Regions from separate parts of the Homo sapiens genome. Here regions 1, 3 and 4 are each linked to region 2. Evidence: fine-mapped expression QTL. A gene starts in region 2. Each other region holds a variant in brackets. All regions are shown on one strand. Distances are between the middles of the regions.

What was found.
Region 1: its variant is fine-mapped to the expression of EIF2AK4 in whole blood (INTERVAL, PIP 0.98).
Region 3: its variant is fine-mapped to the expression of EIF2AK4 in whole blood (INTERVAL, PIP above 0.99).
Region 4: its variant is fine-mapped to the expression of EIF2AK4 in whole blood (TOPMed, PIP above 0.99).

The regions. Positions count from the first base shown.
Region 1 is chr15:39,644,476-39,652,582 of GRCh38, reverse strand. The region is part of intron 10 of FSIP1 (fibrous sheath interacting protein 1); the gene reads left to right. Among named protein-coding and RNA genes, the nearest start is that of THBS1-IT1, 62 kb to the right of the region's middle. The variant C/T (reference allele first, on the strand shown) is at 3,952.
Region 2 is chr15:39,930,052-39,938,158 of GRCh38, reverse strand. It overlaps EIF2AK4 (eukaryotic translation initiation factor 2 alpha kinase 4), which reads right to left and starts at 4,044. Exons shown (of 39, transcript NM_001013703.4): 1 at 3,820-4,044. The coding sequence starts at 3,963. RefSeq lists a silencer at 3,762-4,171 and an enhancer at 4,192-4,331.
Region 3 is chr15:40,094,342-40,102,429 of GRCh38, reverse strand. All of the region lies in intron 4 of BMF (Bcl2 modifying factor), which reads left to right. Among named protein-coding and RNA genes, the nearest start is that of BMF, 10 kb to the left of the region's middle. RefSeq lists enhancers at 3,275-3,844, 4,491-5,004, 5,678-5,727 and a silencer at 4,245-4,294. The variant A/T (reference allele first, on the strand shown) is at 3,749.
Region 4 is chr15:39,969,118-39,977,224 of GRCh38, reverse strand. EIF2AK4 (eukaryotic translation initiation factor 2 alpha kinase 4) reads right to left here. Exons shown (of 39, transcript NM_001013703.4): 10 at 4,211-4,317; 11 at 3,476-3,633; 12 at 381-811. Among named protein-coding and RNA genes, the nearest start is that of EIF2AK4, 39 kb to the right of the region's middle. The variant G/C (reference allele first, on the strand shown) is at 4,951.

The DNA of each region.
Region 1 (8,107 bases), 290 kb after region 2:
AAGTAGGATCCAAGATTAAGAAAAAAAATGGAAAGAAATGTTTAGGTAGATGAAATCTTTTGATTAATCACCCGAAATGTGCAAAATCTATAGCAAATTTTTATTTCAACAGCTCTTAGTCCTATATATATAAGTTGAACTTGCTTCTATAAATACAGATGCAAGTTCAAAATATAACTAACAAAGTACTGCTCTGAATGTAGCAAATGTTTAGAATTCACTTTTAATCAAAACATCACTTCTTGCTCTCTTAATAAATGTACTGGAAAGCATTTATCTAAGTAAATGAGTTGAAGTTGTATTCCAAAGGACTGAGAATTAAACTTCATTCTTGAATAGCACTAGCATTCTTTTTTAAAATGGTAATATTTAGCCCGATCCTCCCCTTCAGACTTAACTTTACAGAAAGCAACAGTGTGGGCTCTGAGGCTGAGCTGGAAGGGAACTATGGAGGTCATCTATTCTAATAGTTTCTCAACCCACTCAGAGTCACACAGCTGGTTATTGACATTTATGGGAGTGTAACTTATGCCTGCTGCCTAGGAAGAAAAACATCTCTTCCATTCACCCCTTTATTTGTCCTCCAATCTGTGTGTCAAGAATTGAGCTGACTGCTTTAATGTGGCTTTGTCTAATTTCATCTTAACTTCTTTCCCCATTTAATTGCATTAAGCTTTCTTTGATGATGTGAATTGGGGGAGATAGATACGTAGTGGTTGAAAGGAGGAATCTATTAAAGGCAAAAGAGACCACACGATTTTATGGGCTTTTCCAACTTGTATCTAACAATTTGTATAGGTTGACTTAGAACAGTGCAGAAAGAATTGGCTTTCAAATCGAAGTGAGGTAATCTCCAGAGGTTTAATAGAATTCTTTCTAACTGTCCTTTTTATAACAATAACACTAGTCAAACGATAATCATAGTAACAACAACCATAAGCAAAAAAGCAATAACAGTCACACAATGATGTGTTAAGTGTTTTGAATACATTATTTTTTTGAACACCCAGGACAACTCTATGAAATAAGCCCCATTTTACAGATGAGAAAACTGAGGCTTAGAGAAGTAACTTGCCCAAAGTCACACACCTGCTGTGAGGAGGAAATAATGCACTTTTCATTCATTAGAGCTTTCACCAGATGTCATATTTATCTATTTTTTACAGATGGTTAAAAGAATAATATGGAAATTTGAGTTGCTTGTCATTTTGCATTAAACATTGTGTGAAAATCACATCAATGTCACAAAATTTATTGGAATAATGGAATAGAGATTGTTTTGACATTCATCATTTCCAGAGTCTTAGAATTGTGATGATCTTTTTCCAGTGGGCTCTGGAAGCTTAAGAAATTTAAGATTTGTTAACTTAGGAAACCCTACATTATAAAACAAATTGGTTGGTTGGTTGTTCATCCACTAGAACCTGAAGTATAACTAGATATGGAGACACATGACAGCTGTTTTTCATGGGTTCATGTCCATGGGTTCATGCCCACCCTCCCATCAGATGACTTCCTCTCTCTGTGGCCCATGCCCTCTGGGACTCCATCTGACCAGTTACTGGCTGCACTTGGGAAACGAAGGAGCACTGCAGGTGTGGCTGTTGCTGTGATTGCCGAGTCATTCCCTTCCCTGTCAAGTAAAGCCTGTGTTAACTCAAAGCCAAATGACAGGAAACCTAAATTAATAGGAATTGTTTTTATTCGAAGGAGGAAAATCATAAGAAAACAAGCTATTATTATATTAGTAAGAAAGCAGAGCACAGAGACTTCCGAAGAATGTTCTGGGGGTGATATCTGATTGTTTAGCTCTTACCTTTATAGGATTGTACAGTGAATACTTATTTAAGAATCACAACGCTGAGATGCTGTACGATAGACCGTCAGAACTGGGAAGTTCCCTTCTTGTTCAGATGAGGACGCTGAGGCCAGGGAGGTGGTCTACATAAAGTCGTTTTCAAAAGTGGTGCTGTTGTCTTTTTGCCATTTCAACCTGTCTCAGCCATCAAAGATCCATTGATTGTACTGCTTACTAAGGCAGGGAGGTAAATAAATACATATTAGAAAACTTTCCCCAAGGGTTGAGACAGTATTTTTTGGTTTACTCTTTACTTTTAGTCATAAGGGAGGACTTAATATTTTGGGTATTTGAAAAGGACAAAGATGTATAGAAAGAAGACAGAGAAGTAACAGGATGATACCATATAGCCAGCAATGTGATTAAGTGATAAATTGTGTGGTACCAATTTTAAATAATAGTAGGCAACATTTCCCAAATAAGATTGTCCTGGGATTTCAGCAATTATACTGTAAAATTTTTATGGCCAAGGAATTTTGTGAAATTCTGAATATTATATAACCCTCTTAGGAATTCACAACTGATGGTAGCTTATTAAAGCCTCTGAGAATTCCATAGTAGAGAAACCTGTCCAACTGAGTTTGAACCAGAGTTTCCAAATTTATTTGAAACAGAATGTCTGAAAGTATTCTAGAAAAGTGCTGTGTGAGTTCAGGTTGCGAATGCTGATGTGGGGAATCCCGAGGATAAGGACGCTGAGTGGGGAATCAGCACAGCTGAAGAGAGCTTTGTGGAGGACTTGGCATTTGAGCCAGGCCAGCAGGAACAAAAGTGTGGGGCCAGAAATGAGCACGAGGCCTGACACTCAGCTGGCACTCAATAAGTGTTTACTGAGTAGGTATGTGAGTGAAAACATGATTTCTATGGAAGGCAATCGGGATATTGGCTTAATTAGAATGAAAAGGTTGGGGAACGTGGAAATAAAGTTGAAGAGGCAGATTCTTCTGATTAGAGAGGGTCAAGCTGAGTGTTCAGGACTTGATCCGACAGGGAACGCTTTGTTGGTTCCTGGGCAGAGGACGACGGCAGAGTAGAAAAAGTGTCTGGGAAGAATAGCCTGAGAGTGGTGTAGAGTCAGGCAGGGATGGAAAAGACCAAAGTACAGTGAAGAGCAAGGAGCCTTAGAAAATGATGCTAACCTCTGTCTGGGTAGTAGTAGGTCACATATTGATTTTTATATGTGCCTAGATAAATGCAAAAGCAAGAGATCTTTTTAAATATAAGAAGTAAGCTAGAGTAAATTCCATCTCAGTCATTTCTGGTATCTTGAAAAACAAAGGGATAGTAAAGTATTATCAGAATAGGTGGGACAAATGTTCTTGGAGATTGAAAACTTGAAGCATTTCTACTCGGAAACTTATAGTGTCTTTATGACTAAAATATATTTGACCCTTATGCTTGCAGGATGTGAAATTTAGGATAAATTACTCTGTCAGGAAACATTACCAGCTAGAGTTCCTGGAGTGGGAGCCACACTGGCTTTACAGGTGTTTTTGGTCTTTTCATATTGCAAAACAGTTTATGTGAATAAACATAATTTATCCTTATACATCTTATTCCAGCTGAAAACTCTTAAGACTCTTAAGTCCCTCCTCTTAAAGAAGACTGAAATCGTGTCCAGTCAAATGTGTAGGTGTTTATGGTACTCAGCTTTTGAGCTATTGGTTGTTTCCGTTTGCTTAGTTCTCTTCCACTCACTCTTAGGCTGGATAAAGATTTCCATTCCTTTTTGGGTGAAATATTTTCCATAAGTTACAAAAAACCCAAATAAAAAAAAAAAACTTTGCACAAGAAATCCCAGTCTGAAATAGCTTTCCTTTTTAAATAATGATATAAAATAAAGATAGAACACATGATAATTATAGTCATTATTACTTGGTGGCTTGAATGCTCAGATTATTTGAAGGGGTCATCTTTAAAATGCCTGCCTCTTTATTCTGTGATTTACTGACTCTTGACCTTTATAATTCAGTTTATAATTAAGACTTTCCCAAGAAGTCTCCCTGATAGGCCCCAAACTACCAATTACATCACACATTTCACCATTTCCAACCTACCTTTACTTTTGGGCACCAATGTTAGTATCTTATTTA[C/T]ATCACTATAATTTTAAAAATCTGTTTAACTTACTTCTTCTGAGTTACTCCTGGGTTCTTAACTGCTATACTTGTGTTTTCTTTTCCTAACAAGGTGGGGTCTTGGAAAGCATTGGTCTGTGTCAGTGGTTCCCAACCACGGCAGATGAGAATCACCTGGAGAACTTTTAAGAACTTACGATGCGTATGTCTCACCTTCTAAGGTTATGATCTAGTTTGTGGAACCACTGGTCTACATCAAACCCAAGTTAAGCAAACATTATATATTGTTAGTGAGTAGTACAAAACCTTCAATTCTATGGACATTTGGCAAATATCTTATATTAAGGTAGAGACTAAAATTAAAATTTAGAATTCTAGAAAATTTCAAGCTGCCAGTACAATCTCAAGTTTCTCTAATTTTTCTTTTTTTTTTTTTTGGTAGCAATTTTATACTAGATTCTTTTTTTTTCTTTTTTTTTTTATTATACTTTAAGTTTTAGGGTACATGTGCACATTGTGCAGGTTAGTTACATATGTATACATGTGCCATGCTTGTGCGCTGCACCCACTAACTCGTCATCTAGCCTTAGGTATATCTCCCAATGCTATCCCTCCCCGCTCCCCCCACCCCACCACAGTCCCCAGAGTGTGATATTCCCCTTCATGTGTCCATGTTATACTAGATTCTTGTGTGCATTAAATACCAGTGACTAACTTACTTTTGATTAAAGGGCAAAGCGTAGTGATATTAATTTATTTTTGGATTTCAGACATTCTATGTCATGCAGTATTTTTCCCAATATAACAGTTTAATATCTATTTGTCCTTATGCAGTAGATTTTGTTAGAACATTTAAACATAGACCTTTTGGAAAATTGACCTTAAGAAGTCTTTTTTTTTTAATGCCTTCCCTCTCCTATTCATGGTACATGTGTGTTTTCATTCTATTAAGTGATAATTTTTTGAATGGCTGTTCTGAAGCTTTAAGTGTAAATTTTTTTCCTATGTCCTGAGACTGTTAGAAAACACCAAAATCTGAGTAACATACCAGTGATGTCATGGGGTAGAAAAGATGTGGAAAGGGTAGCACAAGTCTCTTCTGGGTGTAGGTTTGGCATGCCCAGGGCCAGAAGGGACAGAGGTGGATACCTGAGCCCTACCATAAGGCAGAGTCTCATATGTCAAGTGGAATAAACCCCAGATGATGCATCCACAGGGCTTTTGTTTTTGTATCTCTTTTTTTTGACCACCAAAAAAACCACTTTTTTAAAATTATATATATTTGAAGTATACAACATGATGTTTTGATATACATTGTGAAATGGTTATTATAGTCAAGCAAATTAACACATTCATTTCACATAGTTACCCTCTTTGCGTATGTGTGGAAAGAACACGTAAAATCTACTCTTTTTGCAAGAATCTCAAATAAAAGGCAGTATTACTAACTATAGTCCTCATGTTGTATGTTAGACCTCCAGACTTGTTCATCTTACATGTCTGCAACTTTGTATCCTTTTATGTATATCTCCCCATTTCCTACCAGTCTCACCACATCCCTGGTAACAACTACTTCTATCACCCCTGGTAACAACCACTTTATTCTATCTTCATGTATTCAACTTTGTTTTTCTTTTTTTAGATTCCATATATAAATGAAATAATGCAGTATTTTTCTTTCTGTGTCTGGTTTATTTCACTTAGCATAATGTCATCCATGTTCATTCGTGTGGCAAATGGCAGGATCTCCTTTTTTAAGGCTAAATAATATTTCTCTGTATGTGTGTATATCACAGTTTCTGTATCCATTCATCCATCAACAGACATTTCAGTTGTTTCAGTATCTTGACTATTGTGAATAATGCTGCAATGAACAAGGAAATGTGGATACCTTTATGAAGTTAAGTGGTGATTTCATTTCCATTAGACTTTTTTTTTTTTTTTAAGAGACAGTGTGTCACAGTGTCACTCTGTATCCCATGCTGGAATGCAGTGGTGCAATCATAGCTCACTGTAAAGCTCAAACTCCTGGGCTCAAGTACTCCTCCCATCTCAGTCTCCAGGGTAGCTGGGACTACAGGCACACATCACCAAACGCAGCCTTTTTTTTTTTTTTTTTTTTTTTTTTTGTAGAGATGAGGTCTCGCTATGTTACGCAGGCCTGTCTCGAACTCCTGGCCTCAAGCAATCCTCCTGCCTCAGCTTCTCAGAGTGCTGGGATTACGGCCCAAACCAGTAGTGTTAGGAGATCTCTTGGGTGTCGATTTTTCTGGTGGGAAACCTCTGTGGCCCCAGCACCTTTGCCCGAGTTCTTGTCCTGCATCCAGGAAAAATGAGGTACACAGACAAGTGAAGGGTGAAGAAGCAGAGTTTTATTTAGTGTTAGAACAGCTCAAAGGAGTGAGTAGCTCCTCTCTACTGGCAGGTCATCTCTGCAGCTCTCAGCAGTGAGGGTACTCCTCTCTGCAGCTGGTCTTCCCATCGTCTCCAGCTATCAGCAGACAGGGTAGTCTTCTCTGCACCTTGTGGTCTGCTCCCATTCTCTCTGCCCTCTTCGTCCTTAGCCATCCTCTGCCCTGCTCTGGCTGAGTACAGAGCTTTTATGGAGTTCAGAGAGGACAGAGTGCATGCCAGTTGGTCCATGGGCAAGCCAAAGAGGCACCATGAGTCTCCTCTCCCGTCCACAGGACTGGCAGCCCGGCCCCCAGTGTTCAGGCCAGGGACGGCCTGAAAGTGGGGCCTTACTGGGGACCCTGCCCCCTTCCACCCCGGACTCTGTCTGCCTCCTGCTGCCGTTCATGGCCCTGGGGCTCGGCCCCAACCCCGCTCCGAGATTGGAGCTGGGGACTGGGAGCGGAGAGAGGCCAGGCAGTGGGAGCAGACACCCCTGAGCCTTCAGGGACAGGGGCAGGGAACCTTCCTGGGGTGCCCGAGGGTGCAGGCTGCAGAGACGCCCTGCACGTGGGAGGGCAGCAGCAGCTGCAGCCAGGAGCTCCGGCCTGGCCAACTCGGAAGAGGCAGGGCTCCCGCTTGTCCCCGGCTCCTGCCTGCTTCCCAACTGGGAGTTCCAGATCTGCAGCCACCAGTGCCGTGGCTCCAGCTGCACCCAGGAGGGCAGATCCTGACTGTTCCTGGCTCCCCCAAGAGCACAAGGGAGGCTTGGATTCACAGCTGTAGTTTAGGTGGCCTGTAGCCTCACCCAGGAGGGCGAGGCTCCTGCTTGCTCACTAGAGCAGGAGGCCTGGGTCTGTAGCTGCAGTTTGGGTGGCTGCAGAGGCACGTAGCTCTCTTTCCAACTCAGAAGAGGCAGGGCTCCCACTGGCTCCATGGAGTGTGCAGCCCCAGCCACGCCTCCCTGCTGCAGCTGACATGATGGCAGCAGCCACTGTATCAGTAGTTCTATTTTTAATTCCTTTAGGATCCTTCATACTGTTTTCCACAATGGCTGTACCAATCTACATTTCCACTAAGAATGTAGAAAGTTTCTCTTTTCTCCATGCCCTCATCAATACTTGTTATCTCGTCTTTTTGATAACAGTTATACTAACAGGCATGAGGTGATATCTCATTGTGGTTTTGATTTGCATTTCTCTAATAATTAGTGATTTTGAGCACTTTTTCACATAGCTGTTGGCCATTGTTATGTCTTCTTTGGATAAATGTTTTTATATCTCTTAATGACAGCTTTGTTCTGAAAAGTTTCTTTTGACTATAACTGCCTGATGATTGTTCAGCTCACTTATATGTGGATGAGAAATGGAATGATACCATTTTACATCAGCAATTTGAAAACTTGAATTAAATCATTTTATTTTCTCAACCTTTGATGGCAGCCGGCCTTGGAATTTCCTGAACAATGAGATGCCAGCTATAAAACAGGTTTACCTTTAGTTACAAATTCAAAAAATCCTCTTGGCTAAGTTTTTTTTTTTCAGTACTTGCCTGTAAATCATAGTGCTGAAAAGTGCTTTTGAACATTGTGTATCTAGATACTGCTCCTCATCCATGGTGGAGATGCTCATTTGTCCCAGCTTCTGAATTTGAAACTACTTTGGCAGAAGTTCTCATGAGTTCTTGGAGACCATAAAGCAAATCATGGGCAATTAAAACAAAGGTCTCTCCCCTCGTGTCTCAGATGCACACCTGAAAAGAATCATCCTGGCAGGTTTGACTG
Region 2 (8,107 bases):
CAGTCTGGTGGGGGAAAACAAACATAATAAACACATAAGTACAAGCTTAGAGAGTGCCGTTGAAGAGATGACGTGGTGCTCTCCTTAACAAACGACTTGGGGTGTGAGGGTATATACTTAAATGTGGTTATCAAAGAAGAACTATCTGAGGATGTAGCATTGAAGCTGAGACAAGCCAAGAGACCAAGCATTCCAGGCAAGGAAAAAAAGAGACTTGAAATACATTTGAGAATTATTTCATTCAGTAACAATTTTTGAAAGTTTTTTGTTTGTTTTACCAGGCACTGGGCTTGTAGGAATGGCATTTCAAATGAGTGGAAGACACTGAAAAATTCAATTGCCTATATTTGTCTAGCTGCCTAGCTGGAGGAGGAGGGATGCACACGGGGAGGTGGCCTAGGCCCGTACTTTGATGGAACGAAGAACTTAAAAAAAAAAACCTACTTATATCTTTATTTGATGAAAATTTAAAAACGAAGTCATGAACAAGTTAAAAGTAAACTTTGACGAATTTGGTTTTTAGTAACATTGGAACAGAGGGGGAAAAAAAACCCACAGGGACCATAAAAGAAAAAAAAGGTCATTTTGACTCTATCAACATTTTTTAAATCACATAAATTACGTAAATAAATGCATATAATTAGGAGAAAAATATATGCATTATATGACCCAAAATGCTAGTTTTCTTAAGATATTTAGCTCTTACAAATAAACAAGAAAATGGACCACAGAGTAGAAAAATAAACCAGAGTATGAGCAGTTCACAGAAAAAGAAAAATCAATGGTTTGTAAACAAAGGTGTTCTAGATAATTTATAAATAAATAAAAATTAAAATGAGATATGTTTCATTTATGTGGCAAAGATGAAAAAGTCTAACATATATAGTATTGTTGAAGATAAAGGAAAACAAACACCACCATACACTACTGGGGGATCCAGGGATTGAAGCAAGTTTTTTGGAGGGATGTTTCCAAAAGCTATCAAATTATAAATGAGCAGACCTTTTGCTGCTGTGGAAAGCTAGCCAAAATAAGTTAGTAATTTGTAACTATCTATAAATTATAGATACTTTAAACTAGCAGTGTCTAAACTTTTTACAAATGCAAAAGTTTTTAGCATGCACCTCAAAATGTTATTTATAAATGATATACATATGCTACTAAACTGAAATTTATATTACAACACATCCCCACTAAAAGAAGTTGAAAAAAAAATCTAACCTGAATTTATTGGCAGCAAATTTAGCCTGAACTGACATGAGGTTAGTTATAGTGTTTATTTGTTCAGTGTGAAATTTGAGTATTTCTATGTTTCATTGTGTTTGATTTTCGATGCTGCCCCAGACACTGAGGAAGGTATTAGGTAATGTGTGGAATGTGCACACATAAACGTGAACAGAAGCACTTCTGAATTCTGAAACCCATCAAGTCTCAAGAGTTTTGGATAAAAGGCTGGGCACGGTGGCTCACACCTGTAATCCCAGGACTTTGGGAGGCGAGGCGGGAGGACTTGAGGTCAGGAATTCGAGACCAGCCTGGCCAACATAATGAAACTCCATCTCTACTAAAAATACAAAAATTAGCCAGGTGTGGAGGCGGGTACCTGTAATCCCAGCTGCTCAGGAGGCTGAGGCACAAGAATCGCTTGAACCTGGGAGGTGGAGGTTGCAGTGAGCCGAGATTGCTCCACCGCACTCCAGCCCGGGCGACAGAGAGAAACTCCCTCTCAATAAAGAGTTTTGGATAAAGGATTTTGGACCTGCATCACTTTTCCCTGGCAAATAGCAGGTGATAATAAGTGCTTGTTGAATGACTAAACTCTGATTCATCCTTGAGACCATCAATTATTTGCCTGCCAGTCCTATGAATGTGTTGAGGCCATTTGCCCGGTGTACAATAGGCCACAGACAGCTATTTAAATTCTTCTGCCTGCCTTCTATAGTTTTTGCTTTGGTTTGTCTAGTATTCCATCTTGTTATGAAAGCCACCAGCTATAAATTCTTGAGGTTATCAATATCCCTACCTAAAAGAAGTTGCTTTTTCTCTTCCATTTTTCTGCAGCCCTAGGAGCAGACAACTAAGCTTGTATAAAGTAAACAAACTAGTTCAGAATGAAGCCTTAGGAGCTTTGTGTTGAGTCCCATGTACACTTTGAGACACCTATTTTGGCTGCTTCTTGGGCCTACTTCCTGATTCTCAAGGTTTGGGAAGATAGAAGTTCCCCAGTCACCAACTTCTCTGTCATGTTAAGGGGAATAATTTATATTTTTACCATTTCAGGTTAAAAATAACTTCATATTATTAAGCATTAGAAAAGTAAGCTCCCTGAGGGCAAGGATTTTTGTCTGTTTTGCCCACAGCTGTATTCCTAATGCCTAAAACAAATATTTAATGAAGGAAGAAGCACCCTGAGTTTGAGAGAGAATATTTTGTCCTGATAGCTCCAGAAGATGGTATTTCTTGAGGAAATCCTGGATGTGTAGATAGAGCAGATGTTGTGAAATGCCAAAGTTAAAAGCAGATGAAGAGGCCAGGCGCGGTGGCCCACACCTGTAATCCCAGCACTTTCAGAGGCCAAGGTGAGAGGATTGCATGAGCTCAGGAACTTGATACCAGCCCGGGCAACAGAGCAAGACTCTGTCTCTACAAAAAATTAAAAAAATTAACCAGGTGTAGTGGCATGTGCCTGTAGTCCCAGGTACTTGACAGGCTGAGGCAGAAGGATTGCTTGAGAATAAGCTGCAGTGAGCCGTGGTCATGCCTCTGCACTCCAGCTTGGGAGACAGAGCAAGACCCTGTCTCAAAAAGAAAAAAAAAAAAAGCAGATGAAGTTAGAACTATGTTTTAAATGATAATATGATAATATTCAGAAATAGTTTGGTAGATCAACTCTTCAAGGATGGGGAAAAAACTGTCAGTATAAATACTTTATAACGTGCCTTAATTTCCAGACAAAAAGGCAAAATATTATTTTAAACAAAATGCCATTTTAAAAGGTCTAGAGCTAGAGCAAGCTGGTCTAACCCGAGGCCCATGGGCCGCTTTGAATGTGGCCCAACACGCATTCGTAAACTTTCTTAAAACATTGAGGTTTTTTTGCGAATTTTTTTTTTCTTTTAGGTCATCAGCTATCCTTAGTGTTAGTGTATTTTGTGTGTGGCCCAGGGAAGCCAAAAGATTGGACACTCCTTCTCTAGACTCAGTCTAGAACCCTCTCTCTACTACAGCTAAGATGAATGTGTGCTTTATTCTGAGCTAAATGTCTTAGAGGAAGGTGCAGAGGTATGGAAAGTTCCTCCATACCGGAAAACACAGTGAGGATGCCTGGGGAGTACAGAGGGAATTATGTGGCGTGCAGATTTGAATGCATGGATGAGACTTGAGAATTCTGATTGAGGACGTAAGGCCTGTGCGAGAGCCCAAAAAGCGTTCTCAGAACAAAGTAGCAAGGGGCGCGTATGAATTGCTGTGGTATCATCCGCAAGGGCTTTCAGAGGGGAAAAAGGACAAGGTTGGAAGGAGGCAGTTATGTTATGGGATGTAGGCAGGAATAAGAAGCAGTGCCAGGTAAGAGGGAGGAATCCAGGGGGATTCCTCTGGGGAAATCATGGGGAAAGGACTGTAGAAGAATTCGGCCTAGGTGGGATTCTGCAGACCAGCTGCAGGTGCAAGGACTAAAGTGAGCATGGGTGGAACCTAAGGGATGAAAAGACTGCAGGATCCTAAAGCGGCGGCCCAATCTGGAAGTGTCCGGGCTTTGGCCCAGGGCCCGGGGAGGCCAGGGCACGCCAGCCCGGGCCTGACAAGCCACGTTCCTACCGGTCCGCAAGCGTCCGGCCGCAGGTCTTGGAAGTCCGCGCCGTAAATGGCCTCCAGGGCCTGTAGCTCGTGGTCCTGTCGTTGCGGGTAGCTCTCCGGAGGCTCGTCCCGGCCGCGCCCGGGGGCCCCACGGCCCCCAGCCATGGCAGCGCTGCGCCCAAGGCAGGGCGGCCTTGCCTGGGCGGCGGTGGGCCCCCGGCAGCCTGCGGGGCGGGGCTCCGCGCTGGGGACGGGCTATGGGCGGTGTTCCACGCTGGAAACGGGCTCGTGGGCGGGGTTCCGCGCCGGGGACGGGCCGTAGGCGGAGCTCCGCGCCGGGAGCTAGCTCCGGAGGCTCCAGAAGCCCAGGCGAAGGAAGAAGGCAGGGGGACAGCTTTGCCCACATCCTGCTGGGGGAAGGGGAGCAAAGGAACTCCACGAACTTAAGAAATGAATCACAGATAGGAATGAAAACGCCACATTGTATAGTTTTCACGAAACAAGTATCTTTAACAGAAGTGCTTGCTGGAACTTCTCCACCCTGGCATGGCTAGTGCGGGAAACTCTTTTTTCTTTTTTTTGGCAGAGTTTCGGCTCTTGTTCCCCAGGCTGGAGTGCAGTGGCGCGATCTCGGCTCACTGCAACTTCCGCCTGCCGGGTTCACGCGATTCTCCTGCGTCAGCCTCCAGAGTAGCTGGGACTACAGGCGCGCACCACCACGCCCGGCTAATTTTTCTATTTTTAGTAGAGATGGTGTTTCACCATGTTGGCCAAGATGTTCTCGATCTCCTGACCTTGTGATCCGCCCGCCTCGGCCTTCCAAAGTGCTGGGATTACAGGCATGAGCCACCGCGCCCGGCCGGGAAACTCTTAAAGGGCAGACGTCGATGGGTTCTGAGGTCACTTCTAATTTCACCTTGTACCTTCCCAGAACAAGACTACCGGGAGTAAAAATTGTGACCCCCCCCACCCTCCTTCCTCCCACTTTAGTACCCCCAAACTTATTCTCTGAGCCACAGATTCAACACCCTCATTATGTTCTCTGTCTCTACATTCCCCAGCTTTGGGGATCTCCACTACCACCTTGCAAATTCAATTGAAAACTGTCTTTCCACTCAGGCATCTTTATGAGCTACCTTCCCATGAAGAGAATCATGTTCCCTTCCCAGTTCACTCAGTGTGAATTTAGGGAGTCTTTGTGTTATATCCTGCCTCAAGTCGTCGTTTTTCAAGTTTATAAAATAATAACCTGTCTACCCAGACATTGTTATTGCACTTCATCTTCAGTAACTTACTAATGCTGCATGTCCATTTCGAATAATCCTATTGTACTAACCCAAGTTAGGTTTAAGTGACGTTTCTTCTGTCTACCTTGCTTACTCCTCCACTGTTCACTAAATAATGATTGTGTAAATTCCTTGCTGCCATCTATCCACTCATTTCTGGCCAGATAACACAAATGCACTAGCTTGACCCAAGGCCAATTTAAATCATCATCTTCCCTCTGCTGGAGACCCGTTCCTTCTCCAGTGATCTCTGACTAGGTAAATGGCACCATTCAACTGAGTGTGATTCTGAATTCCCTTTCTCTCAACTCACATCCAAATAGTCACCACTTCTGTCCATCCACTACACTCTAACCCATTGCCACTAACTTAGTTCAGGCTACTGTCACCAATTCCCTGGGTTACTTCAATAACTCTCTTAATTAGTCACTGTCTTCATTCTTGCCCCACATTAAGCCATTCTTCCTATTGCAGCCAGAGTAATGTTTCTAAATTGCAAATATGGCCATTGCACTCTAATCCTTAAAATTACTCCATTTCTCTATTGGTCTTTAAAAAAATTCTTTTAAACCTATATTTATGAAAATGTCAAACATACTTAGAAGTAAACTCCTCTGTACTCATCATCCAGCTTCAACAACCATAGATATTTTGTCAATTTTATTTCATCTCTTCTCTCCATCCCTCAGGAGTGTTTTTTTTAAGTCTCAATCATATCATTTTAAAAAATAAATACCTAAGGATATATCTCTAACTAGAAAAGGAACCAACATAACATATTACTAATCTTATACCCTAAAAATGTAACCCTTTGGCCAGGGACAGTGGCTCACACCTGTAATCCCAGCACAAGGTGGAGGATCACTTGAGGCCAGGAGTTTGAGACCAGCCTGGGCAACATAGCGAGGCCCCATCTCTACAAAAAATAAAATAAAAAATTAGCTGGACGAGGTGACATGTAGTCCCACCCTCAGGAGGCTGAGTGGGAGGATTGCTTGAGCCCAGGAGTCCAAGGCTGCAGTGAGCTGTGATTGCACCACTGCACTCCAATCTGGGCAACAGAGTAAGACCTTGTCTCTTAAAAAAAAATTAACAATTTCTTAGCATCGTTTAATACCTAATCTATGTTCAAATATTTCCATTGTGTAAAATTAGAATCTATACTGGACGCTGGACCTATAAAAGATATAATTAAAACAAACAGCAAAATTTGAAAGGAATCTGTGGATTACATGGCAGTATTATACCAAATGCAGCATTAAGGGGGCAGTGACGTATTAAATATGCAGTTAGCTCCCAAATGATTCAGGAAAAAGAAGAGAGATGATGCTAAATCAAATGTAGAATGTTGAACATTGGAGAATTTAGGTGAAGGATATATGAGAGCTCTTTGAGTGACTTGAAAATTTTATGTAAGTTGGAAATTATTTTAAAGTCAAAGTTCAAAGCAAAAAAAATAAGAAACTGTCAAAGTGTTTTCCAAAGTGGTTGTACCACTTTATATTCCCATCAGTTTATGGGAGTTCCAGTTGTTCTACCTCTTTGCCAGTAATTGGTATTGTAATGTTTTTAATCTTAAACATAGTAATTGGTGCTTAGCAGTATCTCAGTGTGTCTTAACTTGCATTATCCTAATGATTAATGATGTTGGGCATCTTTTCATGTGATTATTTTCCATTCATATATCGTCTGTCTTCTGTTTTTATTCACATCTTTGGTGCATTTTAAAAATTTTGTTTTTGTTTTCTTATTAACTTTTGAGAAATATTTATATATTCTGGACATGTATTTTTTTTTTTTTTTTTGAGATGGAATCTCACTCTGTCACCGAGGCTGGAGTGCAGTGGTGCGATCGCAGCTCACTGCAACCTCTGCCTCCCGGGTTCAAGCAGTTCTCCTGCCTCAGCCTCCCGAGTAGCTGGGATTACAGGCATATGCCACCACGCCCAGCTAATTTTTGTAGTTTTAGTAGTGACGGGGTTTCACCATGTTGGCCAGGCTGGTCTTGAACTCCTGACCTCGTGATCTGCTCGCCTCAGCCTCCCAAAGTGCTGGAATTACAGGTGTAGGCCACTGCACCAGGCCGGACATGTCTTTTATCAGATATGTGACAGGCAAAAATATTCACCCAGTCTGTGGCTTGCTTTTTCATTCTCTTAACTGTATTTCAAAGAGCATGTTTCTTACTTTAGAGGACATTTAATTTGTCATTTTTTTCTTACATGAATTATGTTTTGCAGTCATATCTAAGAAATATTTGCCTATCCCAAGGCCAAAAAGGTTTTCTTCTATGTCTTCATCTAGATAGTGTTAGATTTTACCTTTTGGCCTATCATCCATTTTAGTTAAAAACTTAAGCATATACCTACTATATGAAACAGCAATTCCATCCCAGGCATTTACCCAAGAGAAACAAAAGCGTATGTCCATACAATGACTTGTATGTAAATATTTGTAGCACCTTAATTTGTAATATCCCCAAACTGGAAACAAACCAAATGCCCACCAACACAAGATGGACATATTGAAGTATAAACAAATTGAGGTATATCAATACAATGAAATACTATTCAGCAATAAAAAGAAATACATTATAGATACAGCAACAACATAGACAAACTCAAAATAATTATGCCGAATGAAAGAAGGCCGACATAGAGTACACACTACATAATTCCATTTACATAAAATTCTGAAAAATACAAATTTGGTAACAGAAAGAAGATAAGTGGTTGCTTGGGGATAGGGAGGACATAGAAGAGCCAGGTGGAGGGATTAAAGTGGAACAAGAAGAAACTCTTGGGAGTGATGTCTGTATACATTCATTATTTTGATTGTGGTGATCATGTCACAAGTATATGCATATATCAAAACTTATCAAACTGTACAATTTAAATATATGCAATGTGTTATATGTTTACTATACCTTAATAAACTGTTAAATGAAAAAAGGAAAAGGTCATTTTTTTGTTTTGTTTTGTTTACAGTGGTTTGTTTGAATCAAAATTCAAACAAGGTCCACA
Region 3 (8,088 bases), 160 kb before region 2:
TTTTTTTTTTTTTGGCTCTTTCGCCCAGGCTGGAGTGCAGTGGCATGATCTCGGCTCACTGCAACCTCTGCCTCCCCAGTTCAAGCGATTCTCCTGCCTCAGCCTCCCGAGTAGCTGGGATTATAGGCACGCACCACCACACCTGGCTAATTTTTGTACTTTTAGTGGAGACGGGGTTTCGCCATGTCAGCCAGGCTGGTCTCGAACTCCTGACCTCAGATGATCCACCTGCCTCGGCCTCCCAAAGTGCTGGGACTACAGGCGTGAGCCACTGCGCCTGCCTTGCCCTGCTTTTTGCTGGTTGGCATCACTTCTCCCAGTTCAGAGCTGCCTCTTTGCATGCACAGGTTAGTTTTAGACAAGGTGTTGTGCTTTTAGCCAGAGCCACCCAAGCTGGGGAGAAGGAAAGTGGAGGTGCAAGGCATGAGAGTCTCCTCTGCCTTGCACCTTACTCCACACTGGCTCCCAGGTTTCCTGTACCCCTACCCTCCTGCCATCTACCTACTTCTTACTTACAAGGGTAGGAGGCTGACCAGTGAGCCTTTTCTAGCTCAAAGAGCTGGTTTTCCCAAATTTTCCAGTACAAAGAGCCAGGGTTTTGTCTTCTCCTTAAACAGTTCTCCCCAGAGTCTTCTTGCTTTTAACCCCCTCCTCCCCACTGACCCTACTTATAGACCTTCACCAGGAACTCATCCTGCAGGAAGGGCTAAGGTGATGGCTTCAGGCAGGTGGAACACTGGTACTCCTGGAACGTTTCAGCAGCTGGTTTTGAGAAGTGAGTCATTTTCTAAGCTTGATTCTTATATAAACTACAGTCTAAGATTTCATATCTAGAAAGTACTGTTGTCACTCCTCCATTCTTATCCTTTATCTTCTTTCCCTATTCCCTTCCCTCATTTTTGCAGGCAGAGAAACTGAGGCAGTGGGAAGGAGGTTATTTAGGATTTAGTTTCTAGGCTTTGGGTTCAGAGTCAGAAAGCCCAGGTTTGAATACCAGCTCTGCCATCTACTAGTTTTCAGGAAGTCACTTGACTTCACTGAGCCTATTTCCTCTTCTATGAATTAGTGCTAATACCACAGAATTTTACTGTGATAATTAAGTGAGAAAATACCTATGAGAGTTTGGGACACACAGTAGATGTTCTTTAATGCCTGTTTCCTTCTTTCTGTTTATGATCCTGATCACCCCCGACGTTTGTTCTTGTTGGTTCACAATTCATTTCCCACTCCACCTGGCAGGGGACTCCCTGAGCAGAGCTGCCTCCCCTGAACTTCCCTCCACCTGCCTGGTCCAGAGGAATTAGTGTCCAGACTGATCATCTGTGGACCTTGGCCTTATCGATTTCTCTTCAGGGAATGATAGTCATTCCCCATCATTGCGGGCTGGATTTAGAGAGCCAAGAAAAGCAACCCTAGAGGCAGATGGGACTTGAGGAGGCCTGACCGTCACCTTTCCCCTACATCTGGGATAGTGTCCTGGGGCTAGACAGTGGCCACTGGTCCATAGTCCTGTGGAGAGTGTGCACTCCCCCTTTTTGTCCCTGGTTACAGACCTGAGTTACTCGTTTTTTTGCACCAGAACGACCTTCTCCCTTGGAGGTATGGAGCAGAGGGAGGGGGCGTGCTGATGCCATGAAATCCCAATTGAGTGTATCGACCTGGCTCCAGATGCAACAGGTTCCAAGTTTCCCTGGGTGTCGTTTTACGTGGGCCATCTGCACTTTCAGCGCATTTCCCAAGAGCCTTGCTAGGTGGAGGACTAGCCTGGTCACCCGAGTTACCAGTTCAGGGTGACTCTTCCAGATCCACAGGCAAAAAACCGGAGGCAGAAGATCAGAGTTAGCAGGGTGCTCCGCCTCAGCTCTTTGTGTCTCCAAAGCAGCAAGAGAGTTGGAGGCAGAGTGAGTGGAGGTAAAAACCTTTCAGAACCTCACCACACATCCCACCTTCCTTTGGCCGGGGCAGGAGTGAAGGTTCCCCTGTTTGCTCCTCTGTGAGCTGACAAACTGTGGCAGGGACCCCCGATGGTCTGCTGATAATGACTTATCTTGAGGGTGGTGCTGTGGTGCTTCTGTGTCCAGCTTCTGCATGGAAGAGCATGGTGCAGATGTACTTCCTCCCTGAGCCCCTGGGCTGCCCTGGCCAGAAGGTCTGAGCCCCAGCTTTCCTGTCCTTGTGCCATGGCCTCATTCAGCACGAGCCTAAGGAGGGGCAGGAAGTGGTATCCCCTCCCCTTGGGAGAGTCTTCTGTCCCAGTGGCCCATCATGACATTTGGGGGTATTTCTGGGCAATGTTAAGAAGCCAAGAATCCTCAAAAACAGTAGTTACTGTAAACAGTCGAGTGAGTAAAGCTACAGGAGGGTTGGAATTCTTCATGTTGGAAATGGCTTTTTCACTTGGACCAGGAGTGGCTCCATTCAGAAAAGCCGGGTTTGGAAATCTCTGAATAGTAATTAGACTTTTTGGCAAATGAAATCTGAGAAAACTTTCAGCCACTCAGTTGAAACCATCTTTAGCTGTAATATCACAAAAAGGATCCTAGACTTGTAGGCAGATCTGTTAAAATCCCAGCTCTGCCACTTATAAGTTATGTGTTCGTGGGCAAATCATGTAATCTCTCCAAGCCTTTTTTTTTTTTTTTTTTTTTTGGTGAGACAGCGTTTCGTTCTTCTTGCCAAGCTGGAGTACAGTGGTGCGATCTCGGCTCACTGCAACCTCTGCCTCCGGGTTCAAGTGATTGTCCTGCCTCAGCCTCCTGAGTAGCTGGAATTACAGGCATGCACCACCATGCCTGGCTAATTTTTGTATTTTTAGTAGAGACGGGGTTTCTCCATGTCGGTCAGGCTTGTCTTGAACTCGCGACCTCAGGCGATCCGCCCATCTCGGCCTCCCAAAGTGCTGGGATTACAGGTGTGAGCCACTGCACCCGGCTTAGTCTTGGTTTCTAATACTTACCTTGCCTAGTTGATGTGAAGGGCCTTTAGGAGTTGTGATACAAATAACTATTAAGTCAGGGACAGTTGAGTACTTTTAGAAATATGTTAAAAGATGACTTTAGGATTTTGCTTGGACCTGACTTTGTAATTTGGGGAGCTCTTTTGGAAGTTGTACCCGAGTTGGTGTTTGCATGGTTTATTAACTAGCAGCTTCTCTGCCTAGCAGACTGGATCCTTTGTTCAGGGAGCCCCTGATTGCTTCCTGACACTTTGGGATTCTCTAGTTATTAGTGAGTGGTTTTCTGGAACTTAAGCTGGCTAACTAGGTTGCTCAGCGTCTAGATGGGACAGCCCCGGGCAGGGGCCCCAGAGGTTTGCTATAGAGTGAGATGGGTCCCTAGGAAGCCAGCCTCTGTCCCAGGAGTGGGAGGCCCACCTAGGACAGTGCCAGGGGAAGAATGAGGCTGGGGGAGGGACTGCGGAGAGCCAGAGTGCGTGAGAGCCAGCGCCGGGGCTGGGGGCCCTGTGTTTGCTCTGTGGCTGGCTCTGTTTATATCGCTCGCTATATTTAGCTTCTGAGTCATCAGCGTGGCAGACTAGAGGCTGAGTTCCCCACACACTCTGCACCTGACTGCTCTCTCTTCCAGGAGAAGGGCCTTGTAGTTCCGGAGAGTTCATTCCCTCCCCACCAAGGCCTGCCATGGGATGGAAATTGGCTTTTTTTTTTGGAAAGTGGGTGATGGGAGGAGGGGACTAAGGGAGACACAAAGAAAGAAGGTTAAAGAAAAATGACTGGTTTGCCTTTTGATCC[A/T]TGTCTGGCAGCCAAGAGGTCATGTTCCATGACCAGAGCACACAATCAGTCCGTGTGTGAAGGGGAGGGTTCCATCCTTCCTCCTTGCCTGGTTTGCCTTGACCTGGTCCTGGACAGGACATGAACAGTCAGCTGAAAAGACCCCAAGTCGAGTGTCAGAACCTGGGGTTATTTTGCATAGCATAATACACACAACAGGCTTGTCCCCCGAACCCCCTCCCTCTCCCTTCTTTAACCAGGGCACACACCATTGTGCCCTTCTGAGCTCTGAAGAAGTTGCCCAGTAGTTTGATGGAGCTGTTCTCAGCTTGAAGGAAACTGAGTAAGGGTCTCAGTAGTTCCTCCCTCCAGGCTGTGGAGGTGCAAAACAAGGGTCTGGGGACATGGATGGTGCAGCACAGCTCTGTCCCCGAACCGTACCCCTCAACCCCCAGTGGCTGGAGCCAGTGTCTTCCAGTTGCGTTAGAGGAAGCCTTGCCATCTTCCACTGAGAGCTGGCTGGCTTCGGACTGCTCTTTTTTCCTTAGAGAAGCAATGGGCGTGGCCATGGTGGCTTCAATGTCCTGTTAACACTGCTGGCTGGGCTGAGGAAGCTCTTGGCAAGGAGTCTTTTTTTTCCTTTTCCGTTTTGCCACGTTGCTCGTTCCTCGGGCCTCTGGGTCAGAAGCAGTCTGAGGCAGTGGGCCCACTGGGTCCAAGGGGTTGCCCTCTGGGTTTCAGAATCCTTGGCTTACCCTGGCAGCCTAGAATCCTGAGCCCCATGGCCTGTGGCTGCTGTGGGCAGTCTCAAAGCAGAAAGTCAGGGATCTCCCAGGGATTTCGTGAGTCTGCCGGGAAGATGGTGCTCCCCAGGCCGGCCCTGTTGCAGAGCATATTGAGAGACGTGCTCTGCAAAGCCAGTGAGTCCCAGGTTTTCCTTGTGCTCCCCAGGGAAGGAGGAGCCTGCTCCTTGCAGCCCCCAGGCCCAGTGCTTCATGTATATTTTTCTTACGTAATCACCACAGCAACCTTGGACTTTTAGACTCCATTGCCACTGTGTTATAGGAAACTGAGGCTCAGAGAAGTGAGGTAACATGTCCAAGTCACACCGTAATTTGCTGAGCTAGGCGTCATACAGATTTGATGGATTCTGGAACCATGGTCCAATCGCCCCATACCTGCTGCCCAGCAATCACATTCCGGAAAACAAGGGTACAAGGAAGCACACATTTGCTGCCCCAACCCGCTCTGCCTCATGTGATACTCAGCTAGGTGCTCTTGCTCTTCTCCCCATTATATTGTAAAACAATTGAGAACCAAGTTTATAATATTTTAATCATCTTTGTATCCACATAACTCTTAGCTCAGTTGGGTGCTTAGTAGCTCAGTTGGGTGCTTGGTAGCTCAGTTAGGTGCTTGGTAGCTCAGTTGGGTGCTTGGTAGCTCAGGTGTTTGGTAGCTCAGTTAGGTGCTTGGTAGCTCAGTTGGGTGCTTGGTAGCTCAGTTGGGTGCTTGGTAGCTCAGTTGGGTGCTTGATAGCTCAGTTGGGTGCTTCATTAAAATGTCCTTATTTCAACAGAAAACATCTTCCTAGCTTCCTTCAAGCAGGAATTTTCCTGCTCTCAATGTTCCTGTTCTTAATTGCAAGGCTCTTTCTTTCAGCCTTGGCCTGAGTAGGTTTAGAGAATGACAGGGAAAAGGGAAGAGGGAGGAAAACTTCACATCGTGGACTGTGCACCTTCCCCTAGAGTATAGACAATTCTGCATTTTGAAGAGATTGAGTGTGGTTTCAGATCACAGTCTGAAGTTATAATTTCAGACCAGTTTTAGCTTTATTTCTGTTTGATCTTCAGTTAGCTCTGCCTCTGAAAGGGTTATTTTTTTCTGGTCCACAGCGTCCTTACTAAATAGTTAATGATCTGGAAACAATGTCTTTAAGCATACTAGGGGAGCAGATCAGTGGTGATTTGCTTTGAAAAAGGTAATGCTATTTTCATAATGTCAATAAACACACTGTAAAATTTTAGTGAAGGAACATAGCTTTGGAGTCAGAAGTCAGGGCCTCAAATTACACCCCTCCCAACTAACTTGGGATGACTTTTCTGAGCCATTGTTTCCGTCGCTCTAAAATGGGTTGATTAATACCTGCTCTTCCTATCGTGAGGATCACATGAGAAGAAAGGAAAGTGCTCTGTTCTGTATCTGAGATATTATAAGTTGCTCTCTGTTTGGTAAATTTGCATTTTGTGAGTTAGGTTCTTTTAGAGCTGCACACGGCTTCGCTTTGCTTCTTCCTCTGATACTTTGGGGTGAATTAGCTCTAGCTGGAGCATCTGGAACACTGGTGACACACAGAGCCCCCAGAGGGTATGAATTGGATCTGAAAAGGGGAGAGGCAGAGGGAGATTCTTATCCAGGGAGCGTAGGGAACACGCTTTGTGCTTAGGGCAGAGGCTGTGTGGGATGAAACAGAGTTTGATTTATGTAATCCAACCTTGTCAGACACCACAGCCAGCTCTTTAGAGAAAAAAAAAAAAAAAAAAAAAAAAGGAGGCCTTTTACTAGTTGGGCCTCTCCCCAGGTGTGAGGCTGATACTATCACATAAAGTACATCTTTAGACCTGGCCAGACATCAGTTGTTCCTGGCCTCAGACAAGTGGGTTATCTTTCAGGGCTGACTCCTCTGTAGTCGGTCCAGCATGCCCTTGTTGAGTGCCTACTGTATGCCTTCCATGTTCCCCATTACACAGGATGAGCAGCTGTGCATTCAGGCATAGGGTGTTGCACACAGTAGGGATTGAAACATTTGTCAGCTGACTGCCTTCATCCCCTGTCCGTGGCAAGAAAATGAGGCTGGGCCAAAGAAGCCGCATGGGGCTCTGATGCCTGCTTGTGCTCTCTTCATTGAAGAGAACACCGTGATCTACCATGTTAGGGCACCTTCCCTGGGGGCATTCACCTCTATTCATTCCCTCCATTCCTTGGCCCTGCCTTCTAAACCATGTGAGTCCGAGGGCTCTAGGGTGAGCTTCCCCTCCTCTGTATCCCAGCCCCGACCCTTGGGTCACCCTGACTGTGTATTCTGGGAACTCCCATTCTGTGAGGGGTTCCCTAGCTGAGTCTAGGAGGGCAGGCCTGGTTCTGGGGATCTGCCCTTGTTGATCTCAGATTGTGCGCTGGGTGCTGTGCCGGGTGCCTGAGGGTCAGAGGCCAAGTACACTCATTCCTGGTTCCCCTCTCTTCCCCTTCTCCTCCACACCCTCTTGTGGAAGATCCCACGTTCTCTGGTGTTTTGGTATCTTTGTGTTCTTCATCCTGTTCAGTGAAGGCCAACTTCCTTCCTCCTCACTGTTTCTCCCACTGGCCTCCCTTCAAGTCTTTTTTCTTTCCTTTCTAGTCAGGCCCTTTTGTTAAACTTTTAGGAAAAATTTTATTTATTGTTGTATTTTGTAATCAGGGCATTCTTTGATTATCTTGGTTTCCTCATGGAAAAGGGTCTTGTGAGGGCTGCCCTGAGGCGGGAGAAGGCCAAAGGGAGCCTGTGTGGTATCTGCTTGTAGCCAGAGAGGGCTCATGGGCCCATGGGTGGTTCCCAGGCCCTACACTCAGCTGACAGAATTCAGTTGTTGGAGCTCTGAGTTGTAATCCTGAAGGTAGTCGTGGATGACAAACTCCTTAGGGTTGGAGAGCACCTTTGTGGTTTCCAAAAGGCTGTGGCCTGGCTGCCACAGAACCACCTGGGCAGGATTGACCTCTGGCTTGGCCAGTGGGGTAAGACATTACTTTGGTGGAAAGAGATCGAAAGGGACTGAAGAAAACACCAACACGTGAAGTGTTTTCTAGCCTGGAGGATCATGAGTGACTTTATTTCCTCCTCTGTAATGTCTTGTATTTTCCAATATTTCTACAATTAACATGTATTGCTTTTATGATTAAAATATACAATAAATGATTTCTGATCTCTAAAATGTCACCAAGGGAGCTTGTTCAGTATACAGATTCCTGGGACCCTTCCTTGAAATTCTGACCCAGTGGGTCTGGGAGAGGCCTGGAGACTCTATACTTACAAGAGCACCTCAGCTGGCTTAGTGACACAGTTGGGTTTAGAAACCATTGATCTAGTACAATACCTGCATTTTCCTTATAAGCCAAGAGAGAACTCATGAGCAGGTTGATGGGAGATCCAACCCGAAAGCCAGGTCCTCTGATTCCTGGTCCCTGGGGATCCATGCACCATAGAGCCTTCCTTACCAATTCATGAGCCTTAAGGACTGTCACACGCAGAGGCATGGAAACTAGTTCCTTCCCAAGGGCCGGCCCATGTATCCTGCCTCCTGCACCTAGGCCTGCCTGGGTCCCCT
Region 4 (8,107 bases), 39 kb before region 2:
TGGTGCCTAAAAACGCTGGGGACCGCTCCTTTAGATTGCATTTGGTTACTCTCTAAAAGTGGTGGTTTTGTTTTGTTTTTGTTTTTGTTTTTAAACATGGTCAACACGTCTGGATTTCTAAATGAATCCCCTTTTCCCTGGCTTGGACTTGGTGGGGATTAATGTTGGGGGGCATTCGCTGGCCCGGGAGGCGGATGTTGCAGCCAAGGACGCGCCACTGACCTCCAGCCTGGGTGACAGAGCAAGACCCTATCTCAAAAAAGGAAAGAAAGAAAAGAAGGAAAGAAGGAAGGAAGGAAATGAAAGGAAAAAGGAAAAAAAAATAAAGAAAGGAAACTAGGGGGCGCATCAGAGGCAGCTGGTCCGCGCCGTGCGCTTACAGGAAGGACTGGGAGAAGACGCCACCGTGCTCGTCCTCGTCGTCGTCCTCGTCATCGCTGGAGCCCGGGCCGGTGGCGGGGAAACGGGCACTGGCCGAGCGCTCGCCCGAAGTGCTCCACTCCACCGAGCTGCTGAGGATGGGTGGCGGCGCGGCGGCCTCTACGCTGTCCAGGCCGTCTGTGTCGCTCGCCGGCTGCCCGCGTGCAGCTCGGTCATCCTTGGCCAGGGGCCCGGAGTCCGGGGGCGGCGTCCCCGGTCCCGCCGGCCGCTCGTGCCGCTCGATCCAGGCGTTGTAGTAGCGCACAATGTTCTCATGGTGCAGCCGTGACAGCAGTGTCACTTCGCCCTTGATCCTGCGGAACTGCCGGCTGGCCGGGTTGATGGGGATGCGCTTCACTGCGTAGCAGCAGCCGTCCAACTTGTTCTGCACCTGCGGCACAGCCAGGGGAAGGTCAGCCGCTCGGAGCCTTGCACAAACAGGCATTTGCACCGCACCCCATCCCCTCCCAAGGAAAGCGTGAAGTTCTAAATGAGTCCCACAGCTACAGTCAAGAACCACATGCCTGAAATTCTTAAACTGAAGAAAGCTTTGACTGCCACAAAATTCAGAAAACAGCCCACCCGACTCTAGATATATTTAGCTTGCTGGGAGACCCTGGGGAAAACATAATCTCCATTTTAATAATTAATTTTACTGACAGTTACCTCCCTGCTTTTCCAATGTATCTGCTATCTAAATTTCTAAGTGTCTTGATTTTAAGATTAAAAATTATTTTCTAAAGTCAGTGTAAAGTTTCAGATGATTTTAGTTTCTCTCTGATTTTTTTTTACACTTAAAGTCACTAAAAACAAATTAAACACCAAAAATATTAACAGACCTGAACACAAAGGTTAATTCCTTGATTTCTAAAGCCGTGTGAACTTGGGAAAATTACTTAATTTCCTTGAGACTCAATTTTCTTATCTTTAAAATGGCATTTATACCATTTCCACTACCCCAAATGGTGACTGTAAAGCACTTGTATCAAGGCCTCACAGAGAAAGGTGCTTAGCTTAGTCAATAACAGCAATTGCTATTAACACAATCACTGCCCATTGATTTTGTTATATACCTAAGATGATGTATACTGAAACCAGAACAATACAATTAACAACACAGTAAAATAATAAGAAAGCAAGAAAACGTTGCAAAGGCAAGTCCTCCCATCCTACATAGAGGCATCCTTATGCCAGGCAGTTTCACTATGTAATTGGGGTGACTGAAGTAACTTTTACAGAGTCTTATTCACTGAAACCTTGTAGTCACATCCGTGCAGGTCAACTGAGGTGATGATATACTCTAGAAAAGCAAATGCCATGTGGCCATGGGTGGCAGGAGAAATTAGTTGATTACAAAACACAAAACAGAATATCATTCTCTTGTTTGGCTCACAAGTTTCAATTAAACTAATAAAAGTCTAAGTGAAGTCCTGGGAATAAGAAGGAAGTACTACAAAATTGAGTTTCAGATTATCTTTTTTTGTATGGAAATAGTGACAAGAACACACACTTTGTAGTACAACAGAGGTGGGTCTGAATGCTGGTTTTATCTCCCTTATCTCAGGCAAAGGACATAACCTTCTCTGAGCTTCAGTTCCCTCATCTAGGGAATGAGGATCATACCCATCTCGTAAGAATGTCCTGAGATTTAAAGACAAGGTTTGTAAATCACCTGGCACACAATCTGAAATATGGCAGGTGCTCCAAAAAATGATAGCCCTGTGTTCTTTTACTGCCACATTAATAGGGAAGAGGACAGTGTAGGGCGGGAGGTGGGGATCTTGGCATTGCCTTTCGATCTCCTGTCTCAGTACACATCATATACGAACTGGGTTGGGAGTAAAGCTTGCTATACTGGAAACCCCTAGGAATTCATTTACTGAAGTGAAAAGGTGCAGAAACAGTAATGGGTCCAACTGCTAATGAATGCCAGATCACTGGGCAGGCTGCCCTACTCTGACACAGAAGCACAGAGGTAGGAGGTGAGGGCTGTGGATTCTCACAGGGAGAAACTACTGGAAACCGTGGGGGCTTAAGTTACTCAGATGTTTTTGTTATATGAGCTTGCCTATCATTATTAAGTACTTGTAAAGAGATGAAATTTGTTACTATTCTACGTTCAAGAATTTAAAATAGAATGAAGTTAAAGGATTTGATCAAAATGATATTGTGTTAAAGGGACAGTATACGCTTCAATCATCCCCTCCTCTTAGACATAATTATGATCTTTCTGATCAGGACATCTGTCTTGCTTGTCTGTCTTTTACCACAGGAAAACTAATTTAATTCCTTTTTTAGTGTAAAAGTTTTTCTACAGTAACAGTAATGCTTCCTAATGATACTCTCAGAATCCTTAACAGACAATATACTCAGTTGATGGTGGGTTACCTTCATATGTGAAAGATGACATGTACTGTATATGGACTTAATACAATAATCTGGGTCTCCTAATTTACAAAGAAATACTTCTATTATATAAAAACAGCTGAAACCTCTTTCTACAAGGGGCAGATAATAATAAAAGTCACCCAAATAGACTAGAACGAAGAAAGGAAGACCCAACAACAGTGTACCTTAATAATACATCGCTACTTTCCTGTCCCAATAATAGCTGGAAAATAAAAGCCATCGAGACCTGCTGGGGCCATCTCCCAGTTTGAAGTCCATCTCTCTTCTAACCTTAGAACCTTTTTATCTACAGCAACTCTAACAGCAAACAGGAGAAAAAAAGAACAATGTTCTTTCTGAACCAAAGCACACAAAAATGTTCTTTCTGTGGAGGTCTTGATTCCACTTGAAGTGCTGTTATAACCATGTGTGTTTCATGTTAATGCTCCACATGAAGCAAGGAAAGAGGAGTGGGACAATTCTCAACTGTGTCCAGCGTAACTTAAATAAAACCTTTAACTCCAGGAAGGTGAGGATGAGCATAGTATCCAACAGCCATATTCACTTCCCTCCCCACTCCCAAAATAAAAGTAAAGTCCATGAGTCTTTGTGGAAATGGAACAGAGAAGGAGCTCTAAAGGGGACTGGGAATGACTCTGTACCACACCTTGATGACAGCTCCAAAAGCTCCTTTACCAAGAAGTTGTAATTCTTCAAACTCAATGAAGTATCGGGAAAACTGTCTCTGTGTCTCACTAAAGAAGGCAGCACTGGGTAGCCGGTTGCTAGGAATAACAGTCTCAACATAATCTTGTCCTTCAGAATCTGAGATAAAACAGGGAGTAAGAGGCACATGAGGCATTGGAAATTTAGGAAGAGCTACATAGCCAACAATGATGGAAGCCCTGGAAGAAGAGCTCCAACCAGTAGTTTGAAAAATTACCTCTTACCTGAGTGGCCTTTTAAAACTTTTCCTCACCTTGCCCTCCTTAAAGTAGGCAGAAATATATAATTAGCCCAAGTTTACAGGTGGGGGATTATATAGAATAAGTGACTTAACTATAGAGCTAGAACCAAAACTCAGGTCTCATGATCCATCCCAATCTCTACCGAGGTTCCTTAATCTCAGGTGCAGCAGGAAAAATCTAGTTACATGGCACTATGGGTGACTAAACACTACAAGAGACTACAGCAATGGACATTCATTCCATCAATAGAGACTAGAAAAATCAGGGTGGCAAAACAGTCCCATGCACATGGCACACATCAAACTAATGGATTTAGTTCAGAATAAAAGACATAAAATAACACATGCAGCCCCTTCCAGTTTTTGGTTTATGTATACTTTCAAAATAATTTAATGTCAAACAGGTTACCAAATAAAGAAAGGTAACAGACTCACCTTCAGGACTTTGTTCCACTAGAGGCATTTTTGGCTGGGGATTTATAAAGCTGTGTTTCAACAACTGCTGGGGACTCCATCTTTCCTTGTCATCCAAGCACACACATCTCGGTGAGAGGGAAGGAAGAATCTTAGCATCACAAACAATCAGTGCTAAACTAGTTAATCCAAGGCATTAACTATGGGTTTATTTTTTAAAGATACACATTATAGAATTCATGTTACTCAAAGACCAGAATGTACTCTCATAGGTGAATTTAAATTAATAAACATTCCTGCAGGATTTACATGCTATGCGACAGGCTGGGTACAAGAGGCGAATCAAAAAAAGGCATCTCTAGATGAGAAGACTTACCCTCATGGAACAATTTTTTAAAAGTCTAAGGTAGCACAAGTAGGCTATAAATTTTCACCTCGATGAACAGTTTAATGCCTTGTCATGCCAAACTAAGCCTTTGCAGGAACCGGTTATAAATAAAGCTTTCGAAAGACAAAGCAAATCAGAGAGTTGGTGCAGCAGAGTGGCTCAGTATGACGAGCTTTAGATGAAGCCTGCTCATTACAGGATGAAGCAAGTTGGAAACATTTAGGGAAGGCTTTTTTAAAGTCCCATATTCTATTGCATACTTTTTTTAAAAATTGGTTTATGCTTTTTTTTTTTTTTTGAAATAGGGTCTTGCCGTATCGCCCAGGCTGCAGTGCAGTGGTGTGATCTCAGCTCATTCCAACTTCTGCCTCCC[G/C]GGCTCAAGCAATCCTCCCATCTCAGTAGCTGGGACTACAGGCAGGCACCACCAGGCCTGGCTAATTTTTATATTTTTTGTAGAGATAGGGTTTCACCACACTGCCCAGGCTGGTCTCCAACTCCTGAGCTCAAACAATCTGCCTGTCTCGGCCTCCCAAAGTGCTGGGATTACAGGCGTGAGCCACCGTGCCCGGCCTCATATACTTTCTTTTAATCTTCATTCCTTGAACCCATTAACTTACTGTTTAATGGTGTAATAGACAATTCTTGTTTTGTTTTTTAATGAAGAAAAACAAGCCATACCTTTAACCCAGGGCTTCTCAAAGTGGGGTCCCTGGCCAGTAGCATCAGTATCCCCTAAAAAATGTTAGAAATACAAATTCTACTATACCCCTGACCTAGTAAATCAGCATCTCTGGAGGTTTGGACAGTGATCTGTGCTTTAACAAGAGCTCCAAATGATTTCAATGCAAGCTAAAGTCTAAGTTAAAGTCTAAGTAGTTAAACTGTAACTGATTTAAGCTGGCCTTTTTTTTTAATTTTAATTTTTTTTTTTGAGATAAGGTTTTGCTCTGTCACCCAAGCTGGAAAGCAGTGTTGCGATCATCACTCATGGCAGCCTCGAACTCCTAGACTCAAAGCATCCTCTTGCCTCAGCCTCCTGAGTAACTGGGACTACAGGCGTGTACCACCATGCTGGAATGTTTTGTTTATTTATTTTCATTTTATTTTATTTTATTATGAGACGAAGTCTTGCTCTCTTGCCCAGGCTGGAGTGCAGTGGCACTATCTTGGCTCACTGCAACCTGCAACCTCTACCTCCCAGGTTCAAGCGATTCTCCTGCTTCAGGCTCTCAAGTAGCTGGGATTACAGGTGAGTGTCACCATGCATGGCTAATTTTTGTCTTTTTAGTAGATATGGGGTTTTGCCATGTTGGCCAGGCTGGTCTTGAACTCCTGACCTCAAGTGATCTGCCTGCCTCAGCCTCCCAAAGTGCTGGGATTACAGGTGTGAGGTATCACGCCCTGCTGTGCTGGAATACTTAAAAAAGTAGAGATGAGGTCTTACTATGTTGCCCAGGCAGGTCTTGAACTCCTGGACTCAAGAGATACTCTCACCTAGGCCTCCTGCAATGCTGGGATTACAGGCATGAACCACCATGCCAAGCTACTTTCATTACAACGGCCCAAGTAGTACGACTTGGTAGCACTTGACCTATAATTAAAACAATATACTTAAAAGAATCAACTGTCGTTGTGAGTTCTGGACTTAAAAATCTATACATACAAAGTGGTGACAGCAACTATCATAAATGGTAACTTTTTTTTATGTTGCAGCAGTAAAAAGCAAGGTACTCCTAATTTCATAGCTTGAACAGGCAAAAAAATTCTAATAAAACCATTTGTATAAGATACCGTATTTTCCTTTAAATTTAAAATTACTTTTTAATTATATCATTAAAACATATATACCTTCTCCTTGCAAATATTAAAACATTACTGATAATGATAAAGCCTTTGACCAACCTCCCCTTCCAATTCTTTCTTCCACTTAGGGTGTCTCATTGTAGAGATTTTTCTATGCATTTATACACATAAACATACAACCATCCAAACAAAATAGTATTGTTTTTTGATTTTTTTAAGCAATATCATCTTATATACATTATTCTTCAGCTTGCTTTTTTCATTCCACCATGTGTCTTGGAGCTCTTTCTAAGCCAGTACTTAAAGATTTTTTTTAAACTTCTGTATAGGCGTGGACCTACCAGAATTTATTTACACATTCTCCTACTGTTGAGATTATTTCCAATTTTTCACATTTTCACAAAATGCTGCAATGAGCATCCCTATATATGCCCTGTTGGGTTTCTGAATTGCGTTATCAACTGTAACTCAACTGTGACATAAATGTTATTGACTTGAAAGTAAATCTGGATCAGAAAAATGTTACAGCCTACCTAGAATGCACAGTATTTTTAAGAGATTTATAGCCACCAAGATCTCACTTTAAAAATGAACTTCTCTGAATCAATAATTTTGGCAACAGGGTAGCCGTATATAGAAAAGGTTCAGCTTTGAACAAAAAGGGATAAAATGCCTGGCAACACCCACATTTCTTCATAGTTCTCACTACTGAGGATGGTGATGAAAACCAGCACTGACTCAGTCTGGGCCAAGTGCCAGGCACTTTATGGCTGTTAACTAATTTAATCCTCACAACCACCTCATGAGGTAGGCAGTGCTATTATCCCAGTTTCACAGAGGAGGAAACGCAGGGCAGGGGGTTAATTCACTCAGCCAGTAGGACATAGAGGTGAGACCTGAACCCAGATGTTTTGACTCCAGAGTCTTACCCATCACAGAGGCTGATTTGAAACAAAATCTTGCTCCAAAGGGTGTTCACTAATATGTAAAAATATAACTACAAATGGAAGGTTGCTGTTTTCATTCTTTGTGAATGGCATTTTTCTTTTGTTAACCAGGGCTGGACAGCAAAGTTCATAAAAACAGTTCTTGGCAGCTCCTTAACCAAGCACAGTCTATCAAACCACTCCAGGGAGAGAAGTATACAAAATAGTCTAAAGAAAAATCTTGTTAAAAGAATAAGAAGGCCATGCGCTATGGCTCACGCCTGTAATCCCAGCACTTTGGGAGGCCGAGGTGGGCGGATCACGAGGTCAGGAGATTGAGACCATCCTGGCTAACATGGTGAAACCCTGTCTCTACTAAAAATACAAAACATTAGCCGGGTGTAGTAGCGGGCGCCTGTAGACCCAGCTACTCAGGAGGCTGAGGCAGGAGAATGGCGTGAACCTGGGAGGCGGAGCTTGCAGGAAGCTGAGATCGTACCACTGCACTCCAGCCTGGGCGACACAGCCAGACTCCATCTCAAAAAAAAAAAAAAAAAAAAAAGAATAAGAAATTGTGCTGATCTCAAGTTTAAAACTGACAGAGCATACAGCTATTTAAGAAGAGAACTAGGAAAGTTTTACCTACCGAGCCCATTCATTTTGCTACTAAACGGGAAAGGAAAGGTACTTCTACTTAAACCTCCCAGTACTGTTTTTAACAACACATGATGCTATTGCTAACCTTGACTAAATTACTCTTCATCAATGAAGAAGGCAGAACACTAAAGGTGACATTTTGAA